Linked DNA regions of Homo sapiens. The gene in region 3 interacts genetically with the main gene of each other region. Each region holds a gene or a part of one and is shown on either strand. Other genes may lie near its edges. The genes, in order: PPP2R1A, CARM1, DCAF7, SEC24A, SEC24C, SSB and SEC24B.

The links.
Region 1: changes in DCAF7 (region 3) and PPP2R1A together harm fitness more than expected from each alone (negative genetic interaction), as found in Homo sapiens cells (one large-scale study listed by BioGRID).
Region 2: changes in DCAF7 (region 3) and CARM1 together harm fitness less than expected from each alone (positive genetic interaction), as found in Homo sapiens cells (one large-scale study listed by BioGRID).
Region 4: changes in DCAF7 (region 3) and SEC24A together harm fitness more than expected from each alone (negative genetic interaction), as found in Homo sapiens cells (one large-scale study listed by BioGRID).
Region 5: changes in DCAF7 (region 3) and SEC24C together harm fitness less than expected from each alone (positive genetic interaction), as found in Homo sapiens cells (one large-scale study listed by BioGRID).
Region 6: changes in DCAF7 (region 3) and SSB together harm fitness more than expected from each alone (negative genetic interaction), as found in Homo sapiens cells (one large-scale study listed by BioGRID).
Region 7: changes in DCAF7 (region 3) and SEC24B together harm fitness more than expected from each alone (negative genetic interaction), as found in Homo sapiens cells (one large-scale study listed by BioGRID).

What each region holds. Positions count from the first base shown.
Region 1 is NC_000019.10:52,193,052-52,196,551, reverse strand, and holds part of PPP2R1A (serine/threonine-protein phosphatase 2A 65 kDa regulatory subunit A alpha isoform), read right to left. Parts: intron 1-3,500. UniProt on the Homo sapiens protein: The PR65 subunit of protein phosphatase 2A serves as a scaffolding molecule to coordinate the assembly of the catalytic subunit and a variable regulatory B subunit.
Region 2 is NC_000019.10:10,902,553-10,906,052, reverse strand, and holds part of CARM1 (histone-arginine methyltransferase CARM1), read right to left. Parts: intron 1,103-3,500; coding exon 977-1,102; intron 1-976. UniProt on the Homo sapiens protein: Methylates (mono- and asymmetric dimethylation) the guanidino nitrogens of arginyl residues in several proteins involved in DNA packaging, transcription regulation, pre-mRNA splicing, and mRNA stability.
Region 3 is NC_000017.11:63,553,477-63,556,976, reverse strand, and holds part of DCAF7 (DDB1- and CUL4-associated factor 7), read right to left. Parts: intron 1-3,500. UniProt on the Homo sapiens protein: Involved in craniofacial development. Acts upstream of the EDN1 pathway and is required for formation of the upper jaw equivalent, the palatoquadrate. The activity required for EDN1 pathway function differs between the first and second arches.
Region 4 is NC_000005.10:134,651,785-134,655,284, reverse strand, and holds part of SEC24A (protein transport protein Sec24A), read right to left. Parts: intron 1-3,500. UniProt on the Homo sapiens protein: Component of the coat protein complex II (COPII) which promotes the formation of transport vesicles from the endoplasmic reticulum (ER).
Region 5 is NC_000010.11:73,764,872-73,768,371, reverse strand, and holds part of SEC24C (protein transport protein Sec24C), read right to left. Parts: intron 2,922-3,500; coding exon 2,783-2,921; intron 2,573-2,782; coding exon 2,457-2,572; intron 2,287-2,456; coding exon 2,162-2,286; intron 2,023-2,161; coding exon 1,831-2,022; intron 1,613-1,830; coding exon 1,519-1,612; intron 1,319-1,518; coding exon 1,202-1,318; intron 536-1,201; coding exon 365-535; intron 1-364. UniProt on the Homo sapiens protein: Component of the coat protein complex II (COPII) which promotes the formation of transport vesicles from the endoplasmic reticulum (ER).
Region 6 is NC_000002.12:169,801,871-169,805,370, reverse strand, and holds part of SSB (lupus La protein), read right to left. Parts: intron 1-3,500. UniProt on the Homo sapiens protein: Binds to the 3' poly(U) terminus of nascent RNA polymerase III transcripts, protecting them from exonuclease digestion and facilitating their folding and maturation.
Region 7 is NC_000004.12:109,432,384-109,436,614, forward strand, and holds the start of SEC24B (protein transport protein Sec24B), read left to right. Parts: upstream 1-1,431; 5' UTR 1,432-1,486; coding exon 1,487-1,619; intron 1,620-4,231. UniProt on the Homo sapiens protein: Component of the coat protein complex II (COPII) which promotes the formation of transport vesicles from the endoplasmic reticulum (ER).

The DNA.
Region 1 (3,500 bases), on a different chromosome or scaffold from region 3:
GATTCAGGAGAGATTTTCCTCCTTCATAAAAGGGAGGAGGGAAAGAACCTCTGTGTCCTAAGCTGGCCTCTGCTAAACTGCACTAAAAAGTGCAGTTCCACTAGGACAGCAGATGCTGCTGGAATCTTATAACCAAAACAGGCCAGTCAAAAAAACCGCATTTCTGTGATATCTTTGAGCTGACCCAATTCTGTGATAGCTTTGAGCTGCTGAACTTGCTATATGAGAAATAAAGAGAACTCTTACTTGTTTAAACAACTCTAGGTTGGGGTCTCCGTCACATTCCTGATAGAAAATCTATTAATATCATTTCAGAAACCTTGACTGGCCATTGATCATGTCATATCCTGAGAATTCCCTGTGCACTGACTATCTCCCAAGTGTGTCCCCACCAAGCACCTGCTACAGTTGTGATACTGTGAGATACAGATTTGGGCTTCATCCCCATTTCCTTGCATACAACTCCTCAAATCTTTGGAATCTCCAAGGCGCTTTTTGTATGCTAATGTTGACTGATACCTTCAGGATGGGGTCCATGGTCACTGGAAAGATAGTCATGGAAAACAGAGAGGCATGATTAGAGGGTTGGGATTTTCAGTCCCACCCCACAACCTCCAGGGATCGGAGAGGGGCTGAAGGTCAAGGTGATCACCAGGTTTAATCAATCCTGCCTACCTAACAATGCCTTTATAAAAACCCAAAAGGACAGGGCCTGGGAACTTCAACATAGCCGAACACACAGAGGTTCCTGGAGGGTGGTGCACCCAAGAAGGGCATGGAAGCTCCACACCCCTTCCCCCATAGCTCACCCTATGCCTCTCTTCATCTGTATTCTTTATACTATCCTTTATAATGAACTGATAAACTTACATGTTTCCCTGAGTTCTGAGAGCTGCTCTAGCATATTAATCAAACCCAAAGGCAGGGTGGTCATGGGAACTCCAACTTGAAGCAGGTAGATCAGAAGTTCTGACGACCCAGAATGGCAACTGAAGGCGAGGGCCAAGGGGCAGTTTTGAGGCCTGAGCCCTCAACCTGTTGGATCCAACACTGTCTCCAGGTCGTGTCTGAACTGAATTGGAGGACATCCAGTTGGCGTGTGCTGCAGAACTGAATGCTTGCTTAGTGGTGGTGAAGAATCCCTCCCCACCCCAACACACATTTAGTCACGGAAGTCTTCTTCTGTGTTGTTGATTGTTGTGTTAAGTGAGAGAATAGGAATTGGGATTTTCCAAAGAGTCCACCCATATGGTTCCATGACAGCACTTACCACCCTAGACTGGGACTCTCTGTGTCCCAGCAGGCCTCGGCACAGAGCCTGCTCTGTGGTGAGTTAATAAATAAAATCCGCCTTCCCACTATATGCACCTGTGGAAAGGGGACCCACTTTTGAAGATCCACCCTGCATTCAACCCATGGAGCCTTCCATAATATGAATGTATATGGTATAATCCCACATGTAGTATGTTTTCCCTGCACATTCAGAATAAAAGCTAAGGCCTTACTCTGGCCTACAAGGCCCAACACAATCTGACCCTAGTCTACTGATCCATTCTCACTGGGCCTGGCTTGTCACAACTGCTTCCTTGATAGTAACCAAAAAAACAAACAGCCCAGTGTATTCCCAACCCAGGCTTTAGCACTTGCTGACTTGGTCCCACACGGTTCCCCAGATGCCCCATTTCCTCAGGTCTGCTCAATCCCCACCATATGACTACCGCAGAACAATGAGCAAGCCAATTTCACTGCATCTTCACAACCAGGCACACGCTGATTCTTCATCATTATCCCCATTTTGCAGATGAGGAATCTGGGTCCAAAGAGGGGAAAGTACTGCTCCAGGGGCACACAGAGAGCACAACTGGCAGAGCGGGGGTTCAAACTTCAGTCACCCTCAACTCTTCCCTCTACATTACCCACCAGCAAATCCCATCAGCCCCCCTCAACATGTCCTGACTGTAACCATACTTCCCCCCTGCATGCTAACACTGGTCCTGGGTGCTTTGTAATGGCACCTCAACAGGGCCCAACCCCTATGACAGCCAGAGGAAGGATCCTTTAAAATTATACCAGAACCCATAATTACTACTGAAAGCCTTGCAATTCCTCCTCCTCCCTCCCATCTTCAAGGCCTTCACCTTGGCCCACAGGCCTCACTTGATCTAGTCCTGGTCTAGTCCTCACCTCCCACCACTTTGCCATTCTCTCTGCCTCAGTCACACTGGCCTTTTTGCTGTGCTTTGAACGCATCAAGCATCCTCCCACTCCTGGCCTTTGTACCAACTATTCCCTCTGCCCAGACTGCTCTTCCACGACCTGTTCATTTCATTCAAATCCTTGTTCAACATCACTTCCTCAGAGCAGCTTTCTCTAACCTCCCTATCTAACAAAGCAGCCCCAGGTGCTTGCTCTATTCCCTGTACCTGTCTTATTTTGTTCTTTTTTTTTTTTTTTTTTTTTTTTGGAGACAGGGTCTTGCTGTCGCCCAGGCTCTCACCGCAGCCTCGATCTCCCTGGTTCAAGCAATCCTCCGACCTCAGTCTCCTGAGCAGCTGGGACCAAGGCCTGTGTCATCACACCAGCTAATTTTTTTTTTTTTTTTGGTAGAGACAGGGTCTCACTTTGTTGCCCAGGCTGGTCTTAAACTCCTGGGCTCAAGCGATCCTTTCACCTTGGCCTTCCAAAGTGCTAGAATTGGCCAGGGGTGGTGGCTCATGCCTGTAATCCCAGCACTTTGGGAGGCAGAGGCGGGCAGGGAGTTTGAGACCAGCCTGGCCAACATGGTGAAACCCACTCTCTACTAAAAATACAAAAATTAGCTGGATGTGGTGGTGGGCGCCTCTAATCCTAGCCACTCAGGAGGCTGAGGCAGGAGAATCACTTGAACCCGGGAGGCGGAGGTTGCAATGAGCAGAGACGGCCTGGACGACAGAGTGAGACTCTGTCTCAAAAAAAATAAAATAAAATAAAACCAAAGTGTTACAATTAGGCTTGAGCCACCACGTCCAGCAATTTTTCTTCTTAGCAATTACTGCCACTGACATCCCACTACAGATCTACTATCTGTCTCCCAAACCAGAATGTAAACCCCACAAGGGCAGCTTTGCTGTTTTGTTCCCTACTGTATGTCTAGTATCTAAAACAGAGTCTGGCACACAGGAGGTGCTGATAAATATTTGCTGAACAAATAAATCAAGACTACAGGATTTCATGTCCCATGTTCCTTCTAGTATCCTGAACTGTCTCAGACACAATTAAAATGTCTGGCATATGAATATAATCAGCAACCGTGTGTCCCACCCCAGATTCTATTCCACCCTTAGGTCCTACTTCCTTTCCTGGCTCCTTCATTTCTCAGCTGCACAGCTTTGGCCATGTTATTTATGGTGCTTCAGTTTCCTCATCTGGAAAATGTGGACAAGGACAGGACCTACTTCAAAGAGTGATTGTGAGAATTCAGTAAGATCGTCAGTGATATTCCTCTGTACTGTACCTAACAT
Region 2 (3,500 bases), on a different chromosome or scaffold from region 3:
GCCTTGAACCCGGGAGGTGGAGGTTGCAGTGAGCTAAGATAGCACCACTGAACTCCAGCCTGGGCAACAGAGTGACACTCTTTCTCAAAAAAAAAAAAAAAAAAAAAAAAGGGGCCGGGCACGGTGGCTCACATCTGTAATCCCAGCACTTTGGGAGGCTGAGGCAGGTGGCTCACTTGAGGCCAGGAGTTCAAGACCAGCCTGGGCAACACAGTGAAAACCCATCTCTACAAAAAATTAGCCAGGCATGGCAGCTTCACACAGCTGGCCCCGAGGGCTCAGGCTGCCCAAGGTACATCTGGGTCACTGCACAGCTACCTTGAGACAAGGGGGAGGCCGGCAGTGGCTCATGGGCACGCAGCCTCTCCACCTCCAGCTGTCCTCGCACCAGCACCTGTGTCAACCACTGGACTCACTTCAGGTCTCTGGTAACCAAGCCTGCGGTGGGACCTTCAGACCATCTCCAGCCCTGGGCATTCCTGGACACCTCTCTGCTACCCTGGCTGCATCCACCTGGGGTTCTCCCACCCCTAGTCAGGAATCTTGTGTCCACCTGTGCCCCCAAGGTGGGTTGGTTAAGCCCTTCTGGTGGCTTCTCTGCGCCCTGAGCAAACTCTTCCTGCCTCTAGGACCTCGCCTCACTCCATCCACAGCTGGCCCAGTCACAGCTGGCCCAGGGCTGGCCACTGCCAGAAAGACTGGTCCCAGGTGGTCAGGATGGGCCTCTTGGAGGTGGGGACATAGAAGCCAAGCCCCAAAAGACCCGGAGGAGCCGGTGAGGGAGGGTCTGGGATCCAGGGTCTGCCCAGGCCAGAGTGTATTCTGGGCATACCTGCATGTGGGAATGTGGTTTTGAGGGCAGTGGAGCCTTCTTAAGGATGCACGGGCCACCCCTCAGCCAGGCTCTACGCCCCTGCCCACCAGGGCTCTGGGCGCTTTGGGCTGGTGTCACCGGAATGGAAGGAGGGCCACGTACCGTTGGGTGTGGCGAACTGGATGAGGACGCTGTTGCAGCCCAGGGTGATGATGAAGGACTGCTTGCCCACACGGCTGCACTCTGTCTCTCGGGACACTGAGCACTTAAAGACACACACATCTTCATCTACGAGAGAAGACAGGCTGGCGTGAGCGGTGCAGCCCTGTCAGCTGCCTTCTTTTGAGCCTGGGTCCCTGTCGCCCTCCTGCTGCCTCCCCTTGGTGCCCCCAGATTCTTCCAGAGTGCCACAAAACCACCCTGGCAGCATTGCCGGGTGCCCTGACTGCCCAGCCCACATGGAAGACAAGGGAGCGACTGATCAGACAGCAGGAACACAGCCTGTGTCCTCAGGATGATCAGGGCTGAGACGGGCATGGTGAAGGCTGAGGTGGGCAGACAGGGCCACAAGGCATGGTGCTGGCCCACAGGAACTCAGAGCTGGAGCTGCCTCTGCCCTGCTCGGCTGAGCCCTTCTGTTCTTGGATGGGCGCAGAGCAGTGACTGCATGTGGCCAGTGGAGTCAGACCGCTGGGTTCACACCCCATCCATGCCATTTGTTCACTGTGACACAGGCATGTCCCTCAGCCTCTCTGGAACTGGGGTTCTCACCATCAGATGGGGCTAATGGCGGGGCAGTGGTCTAGTGAATTAGGACACTGTCTCCCTGTACCCATCATGATAGCTGTTACCAGTCATTCATTCCACAAACCTGCAGCCACTCCACTCCAGCCAAATGGTGAAACTTAGCGATGCCAGGAACGGGCCAGCCCAATCAGGCACTGTGCCCCTGCCTGCCATACTGCAGTGGGACAGGTGCATCATCTGTAGTATTCTTGGCAAAAATGTTTGCCCTAGTCTCATCTTCAAGGGACAACAGAAAAGGACAAGTTGTGGGGCAGGCTACAGGACAACCAGCCTGGTCTCCTTGAACAGGCCAATGTCAGGAAAGACCAAAACGGTGGGAGCTATTCCAGAGTGCAGGAGACAAGAAAGAGGGGAGTGCCCAATGCAATGCAAAGTGGGACCCTGGGCTGGAGCCAAACGAAAAATGTTTTTAAAAGTTATACAGGACAACTGGGGAGGCTGGGCCCACACCTCTAATCCCAGCACTTTGGGAGGCCAAGGCAGGAGGATCACTTGAACCCAGGAGCTGGAGATCAGCCTGGGCAGCATAGCAAGACCCCATCTCTACAAAAAAATTTAAAAATTAGGCAGGCATGGTGGCATGCGCCTGTTGTCTTAGGGACTCAGGAGGCTGAGGCTACAGTGAGTCATGACTGTGCCACTGCATTCCAGCCTGGGTGACAGAGCAAGACCTTGTCTCAAAAAAATAAATAAAGGACAACTGGGGAGCTGGACAGAGTGGCTCACACCTGTGGTCCTAGCTACTTGGGAGGCTGAGGTGGGAGGATCGCTTGAGCCCAGGAGGTTGAGGCTGTAGTGAGGTATGATGGTGCCACTGCACTCTAGTCTAGGCAACAGACGTGAGATCCTATTAAAAAAAAAAAAAAAGACAACTAGGGAAATGTGAGTGTGGACTACATATTCCATAATTTTAAGTTATTTGGATGTGACAATGGTATTGTGGTTTTGTAGAGAAATGCATATTTTCTTAGAAAACATATGCGGAAGTATTTATGGCAAATTCCCATGATGTCAGTAGCTTGCTTTTGAATAGCCCATCATAACAACAACAACATGAGTGCAAATATGGCAAAGTGTTCTCAATCACCCTGAATAGCCAAAACAGTCTTGAAAAAGAATGAAGTTGGAGGATTCCCATGTCTCAATTTCAAATTTTACTACGAAGGTACAGTAATGAAAACAGTGTAGTGGTACTGGCAAAAGAAAGGAGACACAGATCAATGGAACAGAATCAGAGTCCAGAAATAAACCCTTATACTTATCCTCAATTGATTTTTGATAAGGATGCCAAGAACATTCAATGGGGAAAGAATAGTGTCTTCAACAAACACTGTTGAGAAAACTGGATAACCACAGAGAAAAGAATGAAGTTAAACCCCTACCTCACACCATATACAAACAAAACAGAACTCAAATGGAGCAATGACCTAAATATAAGAGCTAAAACAAGAAAACTCTTAGGAGAACTATTTGCAAATCATCTATTGTTAAGTATTTAGTGTCCAGAATATATAAAAAACTATTTTAGGGTCAGGCATGGTGGCTGACACCTGTAATCCCAGTACTTTGGGAGTCAGGCAGATTACTAGAACCCAGGAGTTTGAGACCAGCCTGGGCAACATGGTGAAATCCCGTCTCTACTAAAAATATAAAAATATTAGTCGGTGTAGTGGCATGCGCCTGTAGTCCCAATTACTTGGGAGGCTGAGGTGGGAGAATCACCTGAGCCCAGGAAGTTGACACTGCAGTGAGCAGAGATGGCAACGCTGCACTCTAGCCTGGGTGACAAGAATAAGAGCATGTCTCAAAAAAAAAAAAAAAAAGTCTGGGCACAGTGGCTCACGCCTGTAATCCCAGCACTTTGGGAGGGCAAGATGGG
Region 3 (3,500 bases):
GGCTCACTGCAGCCTTGACCTCCTGGGCTCAAGTGATCCTTCCATCTCAGCCTCCTGAGTAGCTGGGACTACAGGTGCATGCTACCACTCCCAGCTAATTTGTTTTTTCTTTTGAGATGGAGTTTCACTCTGTCACCCAGGCTGGTGCAGTGGCACAATCTTGGCTCACCACACCTCCGCCTCCCAGGTTCAAGTGATTCTCCTGCCTCAGCCTCCCAAGTAGCTTGGATTACAGGCACGCACCACCACATCTGGCTAATTTTTATATTTTTAGTAGAGCCGGGGTTTCACCATGTTGGTCAGGCTGGTCTCAAACTCCTGACCTCGTGATCCGCCAGCCTCAGCCTCCCAAAGTGCTGGGATTACAGGCATGAGCCACTGCGCCCGGCCCTGATTTATTTTTTCTTTTTGAAACAGTCTTGCTCTGTTGCCTAGGCTGGAGTGCAGTGGCACAATCTCCGTTCACTGCAACTTCTGCCTCCCAGGTTCAAACTATTCTCCTGCCTCAGCCTCCCAAGTAGCTAGGATTACAGGCATGTGCCACCATGTCTGGCTAATTTTGTATTTTTAGTAGAGACAGGGTTTCTCCATGTTGGTCAGGCTGGTCTTGAACTCCCGACCTCAGGTGATCTGCCTGCATCCACCTCCCAAAGTGCAGGGATTACAGGCATGAGCCACTGCGCCTGGCCATATTCCACTTTAACACACACAGTCCTAGTGCAGAAGAAGAAGGTGAATGTGTGTATGTATATGTAATTTTTAAAATAAGCTCCCAAGTTATCCAAATCAACATAACACTCCAGTCACTGGAACATTTTCCCACAATTGTTAATAAAACAAAAATCGGCTAACACAATATTCTGAGAATATACACTAGCTTTTCCTGGTCTTTTCTATTTGCTTTCTCTTCAAGCCTCTTCCTGACTGATTACCAAGGACCAGTGTCTGCAGGTACCCAAGGTCCTGCCCTATTAAACTTTAAGATGAATTCTGGCACAGCACACCTTTGGCTCGTGGCTCAGAGGCTGACCAGAGAGCTCTGGCAGCGAGAGCTTTGGCAGCAAGTCCTTAGGCAAGCCAGGCTACCTACAGAGCATAGATTCACTCCTTGTTCAAGTGACAGCATCTCCAATAAGTCTATGTGAACAAGATTAGGACAAAAAGCAATAAAGTAGCATTTTTTTTTAAAGCATTATCACTTTTATCCAGTGGTCACAACAGGGAATGAGTCCTCTCACTGTCTAGAAAAAGGAGGAAGTTAAAACCAGAAGAGTTTTATGTCTTAAATTCCCCTGCTGACAGTCTTGACAGGGACTCGTGGAACACTGCGACATTCTAAATATCTATCAAAAGTACTGATGTGTACCAAAACACATTGTGCCTAAAACACATGAGTATGTGTTCAATACAGACCGGCTAAATTAATGAGCAAATGAATGATAATCCTGAAGGGCTACCGCAAATACCAAGATGAAAAATTAAATACCGGAGTCGAAATAATTATGCATCAAACATATAAAGTAATTGTATTAAAAACCTCAGAGGAATCAACACAGGCTGGTGAGGTGAGTACCCATCCCAGTGTTTCAAGTACAAGGTGGTCATGCCACCCAGACTCACTACTAGGATTCTCCAAAAAGCATCAGATATACCTACAGTCTCTCCTCAGAACCTCAAAAATACTCTCTGGATGCCAAATCTTAGAGCACAAGTAGTCAGTTAAATACTGGGGCAAACTAAATCCCAATCACACTGCCATCTTTATCAAAACCAACCCTGAAACATGCACTTAAGTGGAACAGAAGCCCAGGAACTGCTACCCAGCTTTTCCCAATAAAAGAGGGGAAATAACACCTGGGCCTAAAGACCAAACATATTGTCAAAACACAGGAGAAATGCCAAATTCTTATATCTGACTTACGTAGGTAAGCCAGGTAGAACAAGAGAAAATGGATTTAAACTAGAAAATTACACTACTTGGAGTCTGACTATAAGAATCTGCTAGACTACAAAATGAGTTGGGTTGAAAGAGATAAGGGAATTTTCCCCCCAGAGTCTTTAAAAGGCAGAGAATGAAATAATGACCTTTTCAGCTACCTTTCTGACCTCTTATTCCTGAATCCTTTCTGGAAAATACAAAAGTAAATTTACTAAACAGCCATATAATTCTCTTTGGTTATATTTCAATTACAGGTACAGTAATGATAATAATTAAATAACAGCTAACATCTCTATATGGCTTATTCCACACCGGGTGGCGTTCCTAAGTCCATTACATATATTAACTCATTTAATCTTTGAACAAGGTAGATGTTATTATTTATTGCCCTAATTTTACAGATGATGAAACTGAGACACAGAGGATAACTTGCCCAAGGCAATACAAAACTGGGAAGTGGCAGGACTTAGATAACCCAGGCTAATCACAGAGCTTTTTTCATGGGTGAACTTGGATGGAAGGGCAGAACCAATGTTTAGGAGCATGCAGACACAAAAAGATCACATTCTCGCCTCTGGCCAACAGATGCCAAGGCAGCTCCAGGGCCATGTTCTGAGAGTGCCATCTGGACCACTCAACCACTAGTGTGTCTGTCACCTATCTCCAAGTCTGTTAACTTCAGGGGTGGAGCCCAGGAATGTGCAGCTCCCTCAGGATTCTCACACACTAAAATTTAGAGAACCTGTTGCTCCAACACCAATCTTGCTGTATCCCTCAAGAGACCACAACAAAAGAAGGTAGAAACATAATAACCAATAATGAGGCTGTTTTTTGAGACAGGGTCTGGCTCTGTCGCCCAGGCTGGAGTGCAGTGGCGTGATCTTGGCTCACTATAACCTCTGCCTCCTGAGCTTAAAGCATCCTCCTACCTCAGCTTCCCAAGTAGCTGGTACTACAGGCAGATGCCACCATACCTGGCTAATTTTTTAATGTTTTTGTAGAGTCAGGGTTTCTCCATGTTGCCCAGGTTGGTATCAAACTCCCGGGCTCAAGCGATTCTCCCATCTCAGCCTCCCAAAGTGCTAAGATTACAGGTGTGAGCCACCACGCCCAGCCCTATAATGGGGCTTTTTATTCCAAGTGTAGTTGATAGAATCTGTTTCTTTACTCTGCAACAATTCCCAAATTTATTCACATGAAGGAACACCTGGAAGTCAATTTCTTAAACTGTTGATAGACTTAATTCTATGGATCAACTAGGTACAATTTTACGTTAGGAAAACATGATTATGCTAATGCAAATTTTTAAAAATTACAACCATGTTTTCTTAGTGAATGTCTCCACACTAAAAAGATGACCACTTCTAGCCTTTTTCATCAGTGTTAATTTGCTGTGTCCATTTTACTTTATCCTCTGCTGGTGACCACTATCCATGGCAAGCAGGAACCAATGGTCTAAAAATTCCAACCAATAATTCTAAAGTTCCTCCAAATTATGAAGTCGACCACCTCTTTGGCAGGGTTTCTCACAAACTTAGCCTGAGAATCACTTTAAGGCAGG
Region 4 (3,500 bases), on a different chromosome or scaffold from region 3:
GTGCTTCCCACCCAACCAGCAGCTTCAGAATCAGAGGAACCTGCTATAATAATGGTACAAATTGAGATCCCAGGTCCCACCTTTGTAAAATCCTATTTCATAGGATTCAAAAGGATCCCAGAATCTGCATTAGTAAAAAATCTCATGTGGCCGGGTGCGGTGGCTCACACCTGTAATCTCAGCACTTTGGCTCAGGCGGGCAGATCACCTGAGGTCAGGATTTTGAGACCAGCCTGGCCAAAAAGCTGTACGTTTCTTTAGGAAAGCCTGGGCCAGGCGTAGTGGTTCACACCTGTAATCCCAGCACTTTGGGAGGCCAAGGTGGGAGGATCACGAGGTCAGGAGTTCGAGACCAGCCTGGCCAAATGGTGAAACCCATCTCTACTAAAGACACAAAAAAATTAGACAAGCATGGTGACGCACACCTGTAATCCCAGCTACTTCAGGGGCTGAAGCAGGAGGATTGCTTGAACCATGGAGGTTAAGGCTGCAGTGAGCCAAGACTGCACCACTGTACTCTAGCCTGGGGGACAAAGTGAGACCATTTCTGAAAAACCAAAACAAAACAAAACAAAACTGCAGTTTCTAACTGGCTTTGCAAGTTGATTCAGTCAATAAAGGCACTAATTAATGGTGGGAGTCATTATTTGCCTTTAGCGTTAATACATGATAATCAGATTAAGATCCATTAGTTTAAGGTCTTGTAGTCTGCTATCAATTTTTGCAAAGGAAATATGTATACACAAAGACTTAGAAAAACCTCTCAGCTGGGCGCAGTGGCTCACGCCTGTAATCCCAGCACTTTGGGAGGCCAAGGCAGGCAGATCACGAGGTCAGGAAATTGAGACCACCCTGTCCAACATGGTGAAACCCCGTCTCTACTAAATATACAAAAATTAGCTGAGCATGGTGGTGCACGCCTGTAGTCCCAGCTACTCGGGAGGCTGAGGCAGGAGAATCACTTGAACCCGGGAGGCAGAGGCTGCAGTGAGCCAAGATCTGCACCACTGCACTCCAGCCTGGGTGACAGCGTGAGACTCCGTCTCAAAAAATATATATATATATTTTTTTTTTTTGAAAAAGGCTACTGTTAGGTCTTTTGTTTTTTATTAATTTATTTATTTTTGTGACAGGTTCTCACTCTGTTGCCCAGGCTAGAGGGTAGTGGCATGATCATGGCTCATTGCAGCCTTAACCTCCTGGACACAGGTGATCCTCCTACCTCAGCCTCCTGAGTAGCTGGGACCACAGGCTGGCACCACTACACTGGACTAATTTTTCTTACTTTTTTATAGATATGGGGTCTTCCTATGTTGCCTACCCTGGTCTGAACTCCTAGGCTCAAGCAGCCCTCCTGCCTTGGCCTCCCAAAGTGCTGGGATTACAGGTGTGAGCCACTGCACCCGGCCTATTTATTTATTTTTGAGACAAGATACTGCCATGTCACCCAGGTTGTAGTGCAGTTGTGCAATTGTAGCTCACTGCAGTCTTGACCTCCTGGGGTCAAGTGATCTTCCTGTCTCAGCCTCCCCAGTAGCTGGGACTACTGGGCCCGCACCATGCCTATTTTTTAAAAATTCTTTGTAGAGACAGGTTCTCACTATGTTGCCGAGGGTGGTCTTGAATTCTTGGGCTAAAACAATCCTAGCACCTCGGCCTCCCAAAGTGCTGACATTACAGGTGTGAGCCACCACACCTGGTGAGGTCTTTTGACTATAATATATAAAATATCTGTGCTAGATGTTGTGGCTCATGCCTGTAATCCTAGCTCTTTGGGAGGCCAAGGCAGGAGGATTACTTGAGTCCAGGAGTTCAAGACCATCCTGGGCAACAGAGTGCAGCTCTGTTTTCTAAAAAAAACTGTTTAGTTAGCCAGGTTTCAGGGCATGTGCCTGTAGTCCTAGCTTCACAGGAGGCTGACGTGGGAGGATCACTTCAGCCAGGAGGTTCGAGGCTGCAGTGAGCCATGATCAAGTGACTACACTTCAACTTGGGTGACAGAGCAAGACCCAGGCTCTTTAAAAAACAAACAAACAAACGAAACTGGAACGGGTATGGTGGCTCACACCTGTAATGCCAGCACTTTGGGAGGCTGAGGCAGGAGGATCATGAGGTCAGCAGATAGAGGCCATCCTGGCCAACATGGTGAAACCCCGTCTCCACTAAAAATACAAAAATTAGGCCGAGCACAGTGGCTCATAACTGTAATCCCAGCACTTTGGGAGGCAGAGGCGGGCAGATCACGAGGTCAGGAGATTGAGACCATCCTAGCTAATATGGTGAAACGCTGTCTCTACTAAAAAAAAAAAAAAAATACAAAAAATTAGCCGGGTGTGGTGGCGGGCACCTATTGTCCCAGCTACTCGGGAGGCTGAGGCAAGAGAATGGCATGAACCCAGGAGGCGGAGCTTGCAGCGAGCCAAGATCGCACCACTGCACTCCAGCATGGGTGACAGAGTGAGACTCCGTCTCAAAAAAACAAAAACAAAAACAAAACAAAACAAACAAACAAAATACAAAATCAGCCAGGCATGGTGGCATGTGCTACAGGTGCCTGTAACCCCAGCTACTCGGGAAGCTGAGGCAGGAGAATCGCTTGAACCTGGGAGGTGGAGGTTGCAGTGAGCTGAGATCGCACCACTGCACTCCAGCCTGGCAACACAGCAAGACTCCGTCTCAAAAACAAAAAACACCAAACTGGCCAGGCACAGTGGCTCACGCCTGTAATCCCGGCACTTTAGTAGGCCGAGGTGGGCGGATCACCTGAGCTCGGGAGTTCGAGACCAGCCTGGGCAACGTGGCGAAACCCCGTCTCTACTAAATATACAAAAATTAGCTAGACATAGTGGCGCATGCCTGTAGTCCCAGTTGCTCAGGAGGCTGAGGCAGAATTGCTTGAACCCAGGAGATGGAGGTTGCAGTGAGCCAAGATCACGCCACTGCACTCCAGCCTGGGCAATAGAGAAAGACTATCTCAAAAACAAAAAACAAAAGCAAACTGAAGATCTAATTATACTGTAATATGTAATTTAAGCAAACTTCATTAAATACTTAAGACTTTTCGGCCAGGCGCGGTGGCTCACGCCTGTAATCCCAGCACTTTGGGAGGCCGACGCGGGCGGATCACCTGAGGTCAGGAGTTTGAGACCAGCCTGACCAATGTGATGAAACCCTGTCTCTACTAAAAATACAAAAATTAGCCGGGTGTGGTGGCATGCACCTGTAATCCCAGTTGCTCAGGAGGCTGAGGCAGGAGAATTGCTTGAATCTGGGAGGCAGAGGTTGCAATGAGCCATTGCACTCTAGCCTGGGCAACAAAAGTGAAACTCCATCAAAAAAAAAAAAAAAAAGAGTTTTCAACAGAATATGCAAGCATCAACTACTGCTTTGGAATAGTTAAGCAAAACTAGATCCCAGCATTGAAACGTTTTCTCACCTTCTTGAAAAATATCCTGTTCTCCAACTTGATACCATATCCCTACTCTCTGTATTATTAGCAG
Region 5 (3,500 bases), on a different chromosome or scaffold from region 3:
GGAGTCTTACTCTGTCGCTCTGGCTGGAGTGCAGTGGCGCAATCTCGGCTCACCACAACCTCCACCTCCCGGGTTCAAGGGATTCTTAGCTTCCTGAGTAGCTGGGATTACAGGCGCCCGCCACCACACCCGACTAATTTTTGTATTTTTCGTAGAGATGGGGTTTTGCCATGTTGGCCAGGCTGGTCTTGAACTCCTGACCTCAGGTGATCTGCCTGCCTCAGCCTCCCAAAGTGCTAGGATTACAGGTGTGAGGCACCGTGCCTGGCCCCAACACTATTTCTATTAATGAGTCAGCCACTGCATATATAAGCAGATATTCCCAGCCCTGCTGCCACCTGCTGCCCCAAATCCCACACCATACCTGAAAGGAAGCATATTTGTAGACAGAGCCACCAGTGAGCTGGGGCACAACAGAGAGTGTGGCCACATCCACATACTGGTTAGGGAAGAGAAAGAGATCTACACAGCAGCCTTGGGCCACACACTCTTTGGCCAGGGTCTGATAGGCACCTGTCTGAGGCTGGAACAGAGTCTAGGGGGAAAGAAAATGGGGAGAAGAAAATGTTCAAATATCTCAGCTCCGCCCTATTTGAAAACTGTATATCTAGCATGGGATATTCAAATTCATGGAAGACTTCAGATCTACTTCCAAGGATTTTCCAATAGTAAAAAATTTTCTTTTATATTATTTTTATTTTTTTGAGACAGGGTCTCACTCTGTCACCCAGGCTGGCATAGAGTGGCATGATCTCAGCTCACTGCAACCTCTGCCTCCCAGGTTCAAGCGATTCTCCTGCCTCAGACTCCCAAGTAGCTGGGATTACAGGTGTGTGCCACCACACCTGGCTAATTTTTGTATTTTTAGTAGAGACGGGGTTTTGCCATGTTAGTCAGGCTGGTCTCAAACTTCTGGCCTCAAAAATCTGCCCGCCTTGGCCTCCCAAAGCGCTCGGATTACAGGCATGAGCCATCATGCCCGGCCAAAAGTTCTTCTTTAAAAAATAAATAAATACAAGAGTCTACCAACAGCTTTGGCATCAGATGGAGTAGAGAAGTATGGCAGCAGTGGAGGTTGGCAGTCACAGATATGGTATTTGAAAGGGTGGAGTGTCTGGTCCTAGCCACCATCAAGAAAGTAGAGTCCCCACTTCCTCTGTAATGAAAAATCCTTCCCCTCCCCCATTTTCCAGTCCCACACCTTCTCCTTGTCTGTATTGATCAGCTTCCTGTCATCTCTGTTCTTCAGTTTCCCTGGGGCCTCTGCAATGGGCAGGGATGTATGGAATAGAAAGAGCTTCCCTGCACACTCAGCAGCCTAGGAAAAAAGAGAGGACTACTTGTTTATTCTTTATTCATCCATCTCTTCCCTTGTCATTTATTAAGCACCAGCTATGTCAGACAGTCTAACACACTGGACAGTCACCCACTACTGAAGAAAGAGAGGTTGTATCCCAGGGGATAAGATGGTCAGAGGAAAATGGAGTTAGAGGAGGTTGCCCGATACTCCAGCCTTACCTTCAGAGCCTCCATTCCAGCCTGGATAACTGGTACAAATACTGTCTCTGTTTCCCTTGTGTCTGCAAACATTTCTGGAATCTGATCCAATAAGCTAAAGAGATAGGTGACGGAAAACAACCAAAATTGCTATACAGATTCCAGATACCTCAGTTCTCGATTCCCTGAAGAGTCATCAAGCCTCTAGAATCTGACAACTCCTGGGCCACAACCCCTTTCCATCTACTGTCCAATACCTCTGTTCAACTCCATGACCTTCTATGGTGGTACCCATGCCACCCCCAACCTTTACCTCCACAATCTGGCTCTTACCTGGTGATAACTGCCCGAGACTCATTGACGTTGACCAGGAAGCCATCCAGCAGTGGCACAAACATGTCAGCCACATCAGACACAACCATCATCTGTGGCTGGGCCAATGAGCTCTTCACATTATAGAAGTGGAGCACCTTATTGTAGGTGACAAAGCCAACGCGGATTGCTGACTCTTCTGCCCCACCCTCCCTGTAGAAGGTGACATTGTTACCTAGACTTGCCACCTTTTCCACCACCCACAACTTCATGACACCAAGCTACATTTCTTCAGTCAACCCAGACACCCTATCATTAACCTCAGGAAACACCTCAGTTCTGTAACTCTCACCTAGGTAGAAAGTCTAACAGTGACTTGAGCTCCTCACAGAGGAGCCTAACAAGACCAGTCCTGATGGCATTGTAGGAGACGTCAATCATGAAGATAAAGGCAGGAGGGCTGGGGAACTTATTGTTCTGCAGAGGAAGAAAATGTTGGGGAGAGGGGGAATGGTAAGCAGGCCAGTTGACTATAGAGAAGTCAGCATCAAAAAGGGACAAAAAAGGGGTGAGGGAAATGATAACAGCCATTCTCAGCTGTCTCATTATCCTCCACTCACTGCTCCTCCCATGCTACCTTCCCTCACCTTGCAGTAATCTACAGTGGCCAAGAATTCATAAGAGCCCAGGGATAGCTCAGGGCGGTCATAAGCATCCACACGTTTGCCGGTATGATCCAGGTGCTGAAAATACTGGGGGGGAACTGTGGGAAGCATGGCAGTGTGTTACTCGAAGATCCAGTTTCAATCTTAGTATTCTGGCCCTAGCTGAGCTCACACCACTATCCCTCATTCCCATGTGCCCTACTTCCCCAGCTCCTGAAAGATGGACCCTCATCTCTCTAACTATTTAATAGAGAACAAGGAAGATACAATCAAGACCTTCCCCCAAATCCCAGCTTCCATGAACATACCATCATTGATACAGCTGCAAAAACAGCACTGGAAACGCCTCCCTCCTTCAATGAACTGCATGAAGGGACACATGTATGCTTTGCAGCGGTTGCAGCGCAAAGGGCCAGATTCCCCATGGTCCACAACATACGGTGAAGCCTAAGGCGCAAAGGGGAAGGGATCAGACATAAAGGAAAACCACAGTAGGTTCAGCCAGGAGATGAGGAAGAACAACCGGAGGAAGAAGGCGCATGGCGCAGATATTCTGTCTGCAGAGGGAGTAGGGAGCACAATGATGAAAGGGAGTAAAGACAAATCACAGGAAAATGTCCCTATGAGTAAAAATTATATAGTTCCCTCTTCCTACATCCCACCCCCAGAGCTGCATTTCTCACTGAAAGAGAAGAGGAAATGCAAAACCGGCCATATCAGACTAGGGGCTGCCATGGGCATATGAGGGAGAAAGCCAAGATTATCTAGGATTCTCCTTTCTGGCCCCATCTCTAATGCCCTTCACTCTTGCTCTAAGAATCTTGATTCCAGCTCCTTCCCTAACCAAATATCTGTAACACCTCCTCCCGTATCCCTGGGATTCTGTGCCAGTTACTGATGCCCCAGGCAAATGTCACCCTACACATAAGAGACCAGTGCCCAACTATCCCCAATGGGACCCAGATAGAAATAGACAAACACACAGAGAAAGACGGAGAGATAAGCAGAATATAAACTGAGCCTTTG
Region 6 (3,500 bases), on a different chromosome or scaffold from region 3:
ACAAAAGGCAAAACACTTTCCCCAAATATACAATAATGTTTACAAATTAGCAAAAAGATAAAACTAAAATGTCAATTACTAAAATAGTGTAACAGATGTGTCAATAGACTAGAAAACCTTAAAGAAGAATATATTTAAAGATTATATGAAAAGGCTCTTGCAAATCAGTGTGGAAAGAACAGATGGTTAAATAAAAAGAACTGGAAGAAATTGGTTAATCACTCAATTCTTATTTTTTTTTGAGACAGAGTCTTACTCTGTCGCTCAGGCTGGAGTGCAGTGGCATGAACTCAGCTTGCCGCAACCTCCGCTTCCCAGGTTCAAGTGATTCTCCTGCCTCAGCCTCCTGAGTAGCTGGGATTACAGGCATGTACCACCACGCCCAGCGAATTTTTGTTATTTTTAGTAGAGACAGGGTTTTACCATGTTGGCCTTGAACTCCTGATCTCAAGCGATCTGCCCACCTCGGCCTCCCAAAGTGCTGGGATTGCAGGCATGAGCCACCACACCTGCCCTTCTAATTTTTTAAAATTAAAAAATAAGGGACGGGGCCAGGCACGGTGCCGCACGCCTGTAATCCCTGCACTTTGGGAGGTCAAGAGATTGAGACCACCCTGGCCGACATGGTCAAACCCCGTCTCTACTAAAAATACAAAAATTAGCTGCACATAGTGGCACACACCTGTAGTCCCAGCTACTCAGGGGGCTGGGGCAGAAGAATCATTTGAAACCGGGAGGCAGAGGCTGCAGTGAGCCAAGATTGTGCCACTGCATTCCAGCCTGACAAAAGAGTGAGACTCCATCTCAAAAAAGGGGGTGGGGGGCCAGGAGTGGTGGTTCATGCCTAATCCCAGCACTTTAGGAGGCTGAGGTGGGTGCATTGCTTGAGTCTAGGAGTTCAAGACCAGCCTGGGCAACATGGCAAGACCCCAGCTCTCCAAAAAATAAATAAATAAATAAAATAAATAAGAAATAGAGGTACGTGCCTCTAGTCCCAGCTCAGGAAGCTGAAGTGGGAGGATTGCTTAAGCCTGGCAGGTTGAAGCTGCAGTGAGGCATAATTGTGCCACTGTACTCCAGCCTGGGCAACAAAGTAAGACGCTGCCTCAAAAAAAAAAAAAAAAAAAAAAGTTAAAGTAAATGTTTCTCAAATTTAAGCATAGAGGAACTCTCAATATACAAGCCAAGGAAAAACCCAAGTATGACTATTTGGAATGCCAGAAGTAACATAAAAAGTAAAAGACAAACAAATTTTGTCAAGAATTCTTACAAACAAAGAAGAAGGGTAAAAAGAGAACACCCTAATAGAAAACAGTTAAAGGATATTTTATTGGCCTCGCACGGTGGCCCAAGCCCATAATCCCAGCACTTTGGGAGGCTGAGGCGGGTCAATTTCTTGAGGCCAGAAGTTCGACAACAGACTGGCCAAAGTGGTGAAACCCTGACTCTACTAAAAATACAAAAATTAGCCACACATGGTGGTGCACGCCTGTAATCCCAACTACTCGGATGGCTGAGGCACAAGACTAGCTTGAACCCGGGAGGTGGAGGTTGCAGTGAGCTGAGATCACCGCCACTGTACTCCAGCCTGAGAGGAGAGCAATACTGTCTCTCTGTCTTAAAAAAAAAAAAGACACTATTTTTCAGGGATCGGGTCTTGCTTTGTTGCCCAGACTGGAATGCAGTGGTGCAACCACAGCTCACTGCAGCCTGAAACTCCCGGGCTCAATTGATCTTCCTCCTCAGCCTTCCAAGTAACTAGGACGACAAGCACATGCCACCATGCCCAGCTAATGATTTTTTTAAAAATTATAAAAAATAGGCCAAGCGCAATAGCTCATGCCTGTAATCCCAGCACTTTGGGTGGCCGAAGCAGGTGGATCACCCGAGGTCAGGAGTTCGAAACCAGCCTGACCAACATGGTGAAACCCCGTCTCCACTAAAAATACAAAAATTAGCCGGGCATGGTGGTGTGCACCTATAATCCTAGCTACTTGGGAAGCTGAGGAACCTGGAAGGTGGAGGTTGTGGTGAGCCAAGATCACGCCACTGCACTCTGCACTCCAGCCTGGGAGACAAGAGTGAGACTCCATCACAAAAAATAAATAAATAAATAATGTACTGTAAACTAAAAAAAAAATCCAACCTCATTTCATTGTTAATCAAAGAAATACAATTTAAAGCAACGAGACAGCATTTTTCACCTAACAAACTGGCTAAGATTAGAAAGAAAACCAAGACTACCTAGTATTGACTTGAACACAGAGAACTAGCCATTCAGGTAGATGTAAACTGACAATTATCAGTGTTTTTTAAATGTGCATAATCCTTGAGCCAGTATGGCTCCTTCTAAGAATTTTCCTTGAAGAAATCAATAAACATGTTTACTAAGATTTATATATAAGAATATTTGTCAAAGAATGATTACAGCTAAAAAAATTAGAAACATCCTTCATATTAAAGAGGAGAATGAAAAGATTATTGATTACAAAACTTTTCTCCACAAAAATGCATCCTATATTTAGCGGGGGAAAGGGAAGGAAATAAAATTGTTAGAAATGTACCACTCTGGTGGGGGATGTTTTAAAAGGTGAAGGCACTATGCTTGTGTGGAGGCAGGGGATATATGGAAAATCTCTGTACCTTCTGCTCAATTTTGCTGTAAACCTAGAACTGTTGTAAAATATAAGGTCCACTAAAAAAATTAGTATGAGCATGAAGCAAAGTGTCAAAAGCTTTTAACCTTGATAACCTCAGAAGAGTAGGATTTGAGAGTTAGCAGGTTGTGGGAGAGATACAACCTTTTCTATATACATCTTAGTATTGTTCTAAGTATTAAACACAGAATGAATAATTTCTAATTTTTCTCCTCATAGTCATAAAGAAATTAATACCAAAAAAAGGAACATGAGACATTTTAAATGCAGAGACGTGCAGCTTAAAAAAAAAAAAAAAGCAGTTCTGAGAATTGCAGAAAAACCCCACACCAAACAATATGATCTGAGGGGTTCTTAGCAAGAACCTAAGTTTAGAGATAATTTCCCATGCAACCATTATCGATATTGTAAAGATTTTAAGGTTTTTTTCTTTTTGAGTTTAATTGAACAAAGAACGATTTGCAAATCAGGCAGCCTCCCCAGCCAGAGTATGCTCACGAAGACTCTCAAGTTTCTTCCCCTCGCCCCCTGAAACAGTGTCTCGCTCTGTCATCCAGGCTGGAGTGCAGTGGTATGATCACAGCCACTGCAGCCTCTACCTTCTGGGCTCCATCAATCCTCCCACCTCAGCTTCCCAAGTAGCTAGGACTACAGGTAAACTGCTAACACACTCAGCTAATTTTTAAAATTTTTTTGTAGAGATGGGGCCTCATCATGTTGCCCAGGCTGGTCTCTAACTCCTGGACTCAAGCCATCCTCCTGCATCAGTACTGCAAAGGTACTACGGATCACTTGAGGTATTACGTTAACATAAACATAATACCTAAATTTGAAAAAATGCTA
Region 7 (4,231 bases), on a different chromosome or scaffold from region 3:
CCTAGTTATTCCCTTACCCACGTAATTATAGACCTTAATCCAAATTCAAAGGACTCCTGGGAGATGCTGGAATCTGTAATTGTGTAATCTCTTTGATGAAGCACAGAGTGTGATCTTTTGCTCATGTGGGGCTAGGTTTCTGTGGAGAAGCTGGAAATGCTGTGGAAAAGGGCTTGCCCCTTTTGTGTATATGAACTCTAATGTAGTTGAAATTCCTAGAAGTCAAAGATATAAATCTAACTACTAAAATTCATTTAGTGCATTAAAATGCCAGTTATTAATTTACGGCAACAACTAAAGGGAAGCTTTGTATTATTCTAGGACTACAATGCAATTTATGCTTTGCATAATCATTCAGTAAATGACTTATTGCTCCAGAAATACCATCTTGCTAGATCCCATTCTGAATTCAGTGTTTCTGAGCAATCTCATCTCCAATACAGAGTGATGACATACTCAGGATTCCAAGACGGCAAAATGACTTGGGTAATGTAGTCTAGGGCCTGCCAGTGAGTATGCTGAGACAGACCAGAAAGACTTAAAGATTCCACTAATGTAGACAAAGCAAGCTGAGCCACAACTTCTCGGAACACCAACAGGATGCACCAACAATCGACAAAAAAAAAAAAAAAAAAGGAGATAAAGTTTAAAGTTTGTCTTCCAGCATTCCCTTACCCTATTTTCCCCTTCCTCTTCCCTACTTTATCAGTGGGAAAAGTTCTCAATAATGCAATTCTTACTGAGATTCTTGTGTTTATCAGAGAAATGTTTCCTCTTTCTTTGCCAAGGAATTATATATTCCCAACAGACATGGCGCTTGAATGCTATATTTCCTTTGGAATCAAGAAAGGGGAGGTGGGGGAATCAAAAATTAAAAACCAAACCCAAGCCATTGTTCCTCTTCGAGGAAGGGTGGGTGGTCAGTCGTCGCCTGAGCTCCGAACATCAACCCGCGGCTCTCAAGTTCCCCTCCCAGTAATGCTGGGCCCAGCCTCGCCGCGGCCGATCCAGCCTCTGCCCTAGGTGGAAGCGGGCCACCCGGTCCCTTCACCCACTGAGGCCCAGTCCTTTCGCCTCAACACGAAGGCACCTGGCCGGGCCGGAGCAGCAGCCGCGGGGCCGGCACTGGGGCCACGGAACCCCGGGCCAGACTCAGGCCTGGGCCAGCTCGGCTCCGGCCTGCAGGGGGCGCTGCGGCGGCACCGGCGCGAGGCCCGCGCGTGCGGGGAGCGACCCCAGGTGTAAGTCCCGGGGCGTGGGGCGCGTGGGTCAAGGCGGAGCGACCCAGGATCCCCGCGCCCGCGGCGGCCGCCGAGTGGCAGCGCTGGACTCGCGGAGAAGCTTGGGTACCTGAGCCGCGGTCCCGGGTGACACCCTCAGTGACGCCAGGCGCGTTCCTTCCTCTTCCTCTCTCCTCTCCGGCCCCGCCTTCCCTTCCCTCCGCCCACCTCCCTGAAGCGGAGCCGCCGTCGCCACCAGCGCCGTCATGTCGGCCCCCGCCGGGTCCTCTCACCCGGCCGCCAGCGCCCGGATCCCGCCCAAGTTCGGCGGAGCGGCCGTCTCAGGAGCCGCAGCGCCCGCGGGCCCGGGTGCGGGCCCGGCGCCGCACCAGCAGAACGGTGAGGCGGGCGGCCCGGGCGGAGCGCGGGGCCTAGCACCGGCTGGGCGGCCTGCACGGCCACATCGGGGCGGGGCGGGCCGGGCCGGGAAGGGCGTTCGGGGCCAGGCCCGGCCCGAGGGACGGGAGCGGGCGCGGTGCGGAGGCCGCGGGGTCCGGGTTGGGTGCGGGTAGGGGGCAGGGAAGGCACGGCGCGGGGCGCGCGGGGGTGGGACGCCCCTGGCGTGGGGGCGGGGGCCGGCCTGGGAAAGCTGGGGCCGTGGCTGTTTATGTAATGCGACCCCAGGCCCGAAACGGCCTCGGGCGAGTAGGGGCGACTGAAAAGCTGGGAGCCCACGTAGTAAAACCCAGTTACCTAGCCTGGACGCGGGCGAGTTGCCCCGAGCGACCCCTTGGCTGCGAGAGCTGGCCAGAAGCCGAGGCCGCTGAGTGCGTGGTCCGGAGAAGGCTGGTGCAGCCACCCAGCAGGGTGGATTGTGCCCTTCCTGTCTCAGGAAAATTGCTTCGGTTCCCGAGGCCCAGCGAACACGCTGCCTTGAGGAAACTTAAGTTTGCACTCAAGTTTGTAGACAAAAGGGTGTAAATATGCTATATAAGTGTAACTGTAACCCTGACCCAGTTCGGCCTCAAGAACTGTCATTGCCGCTGCGGCTGCTGCTCAAGCTTTTGGAGTTTGCTTGTAGTGTTTGAAAGGGAGCAGATGTAAACGGATTTAAACGAACATCTTTAGATCTGGGTGTTTTTCCTAGCTCCACTTTCAGAGATGAAAAAACGTGCCAGAGTTGGCCCTGCTTTGAGGCAGGGCCTTCATACAGGCAGCAGCCAAATGCAGCACGAAAGCCGCTTTCATATTAAGGTCGTGGGCTTTTAGTAGGCTGCAAAATGATGGATATGCATTCCCTAATGCTGAGATTTGGAATGTTCGCGGATAGGGGCCAAGGGTGGAGGAATTCTCCTTACAGACTTCTTAGTATGTCAGATGAGAACCTTGGAAAGTAATTGACTGAATTTAGAAAAATACCTCTGTCCTGTGTTGGTACGAGAACCAAACTGCATTAGTACTCTCCAGATGATTGACCTGTTTTATCTAATTTCCTAATGAAAATCTGCTGGACTTTATGAATTAGTTTAATCAACATCTAAGTTTTACAACTGATGCTTTTCAAACATGAAGTGTATCGTTTGTCCTGAGGATCAGAAGTTGAGTGATACTTTAGCCTTAATATTCTTTGGATCAGCCTTACCTATCAGTATTACATGCTGTACTCTCAGTAGTCATTGTTTACTATAATCGCTTTTGGATATAAACCTGTTCTGAACAAATGTAAAAATACTATTTGTGAGCAGTGTTTGTTCTTGTAACCTTAATATAAGTTCTTGTTTTTGTTTGTTTTTAAAATAGCTTTATGAAGGAACTAGAACACGATAATTTAGTAAAAGAGCCCAAGTCTTTTAGAACATTGTAGACTCATGTTTACCAGTGATTCAAGGATTGTGTCTTTCCTTGATTTTCTGAATATGCATTATCATCTTAGTGAACAGTTTTTAAAGTGGCAAATGTTTATTACAGCCTTATAAATTTTGTGAACACTCAAGAATGCCAGGATATGTACTCAGCCAAGTGTAATCAGGATGTTAAAATCTGTAAGAACAAATCAATGTTTTGATGCCAAATATAGATGATGCTTGAGTTCTCTTGTTTATAATCACTACTTTCCTTTAATGTTGCAATAATCATTTCAACATTTATTGCATGCTTACCAGTTGGGGACTCAAGGTTAGGGTAGCAGATGAGACAGAGTCCCTGCCTCTCTCCTGACTTGCCCTGTATTTGGTAATGTTTGAATTGGTTCTGGCTAGCCTTGAGGGACTCGACAGGTTGGGGTGGGAGGGAAAGGTTGACTCTAGGCAGAGGTTACAGCATGAACTAAAGTTTGGAAATATGAAAGTGCAGGGCATGCTTGGAAAGTGGAAGGAGTCAAGAGGTGCAGAGGGTGCTGGGTGGCATGGGAAGCCAAGGCATCGAAGCCGAAAGGAGCAGGTTAAAAGGGGTCAGGTTGCAGAAAGGCCTTAAATGTTATGCTAGGAAATTTGAAAGTTATGGTAAAGTGTAAGAACTAGGGTCAGGTAGAGTACGAGGTCTCCCTGTGTTGCCCAGGCTGGTCTGCTGGGCTCAGGTGATCCTCACACCTTATCCTCCAGAAGGATTTTTGTTTTTGTGGAAGGGATTAGTTTAAGTAGAGAAACAAGATTAAATCTCTTTTTGTTTTGTTTGCTAATCTCAAAAAAAAAAAGTTTGCTACGTGGTATCAGCATGTAGTAAGCAGTCATTTGGGTTTCTCATTTATTTTTCAGTCCTACAAAAGTAGTTAGCCTTTTAATATATCTCTATGGAATTCCAGACATGGTGAAAAAGAAATAGGTCAGAAATATGAGCATAAAACAGACAGAATTGTAAAACTGGAATGGTACCTAGAAATCACTCACTTCAGTGTTGTGGTGTGATATGAAATACGTTTGGCCTTTGTCCTGGGTTCCTGTAACAGCTCCTAAAACCCTTGTAATTTCCTGAGTGATAGGAGTGTCGCTTGCTACTCATAAGGAGTCTTTTGA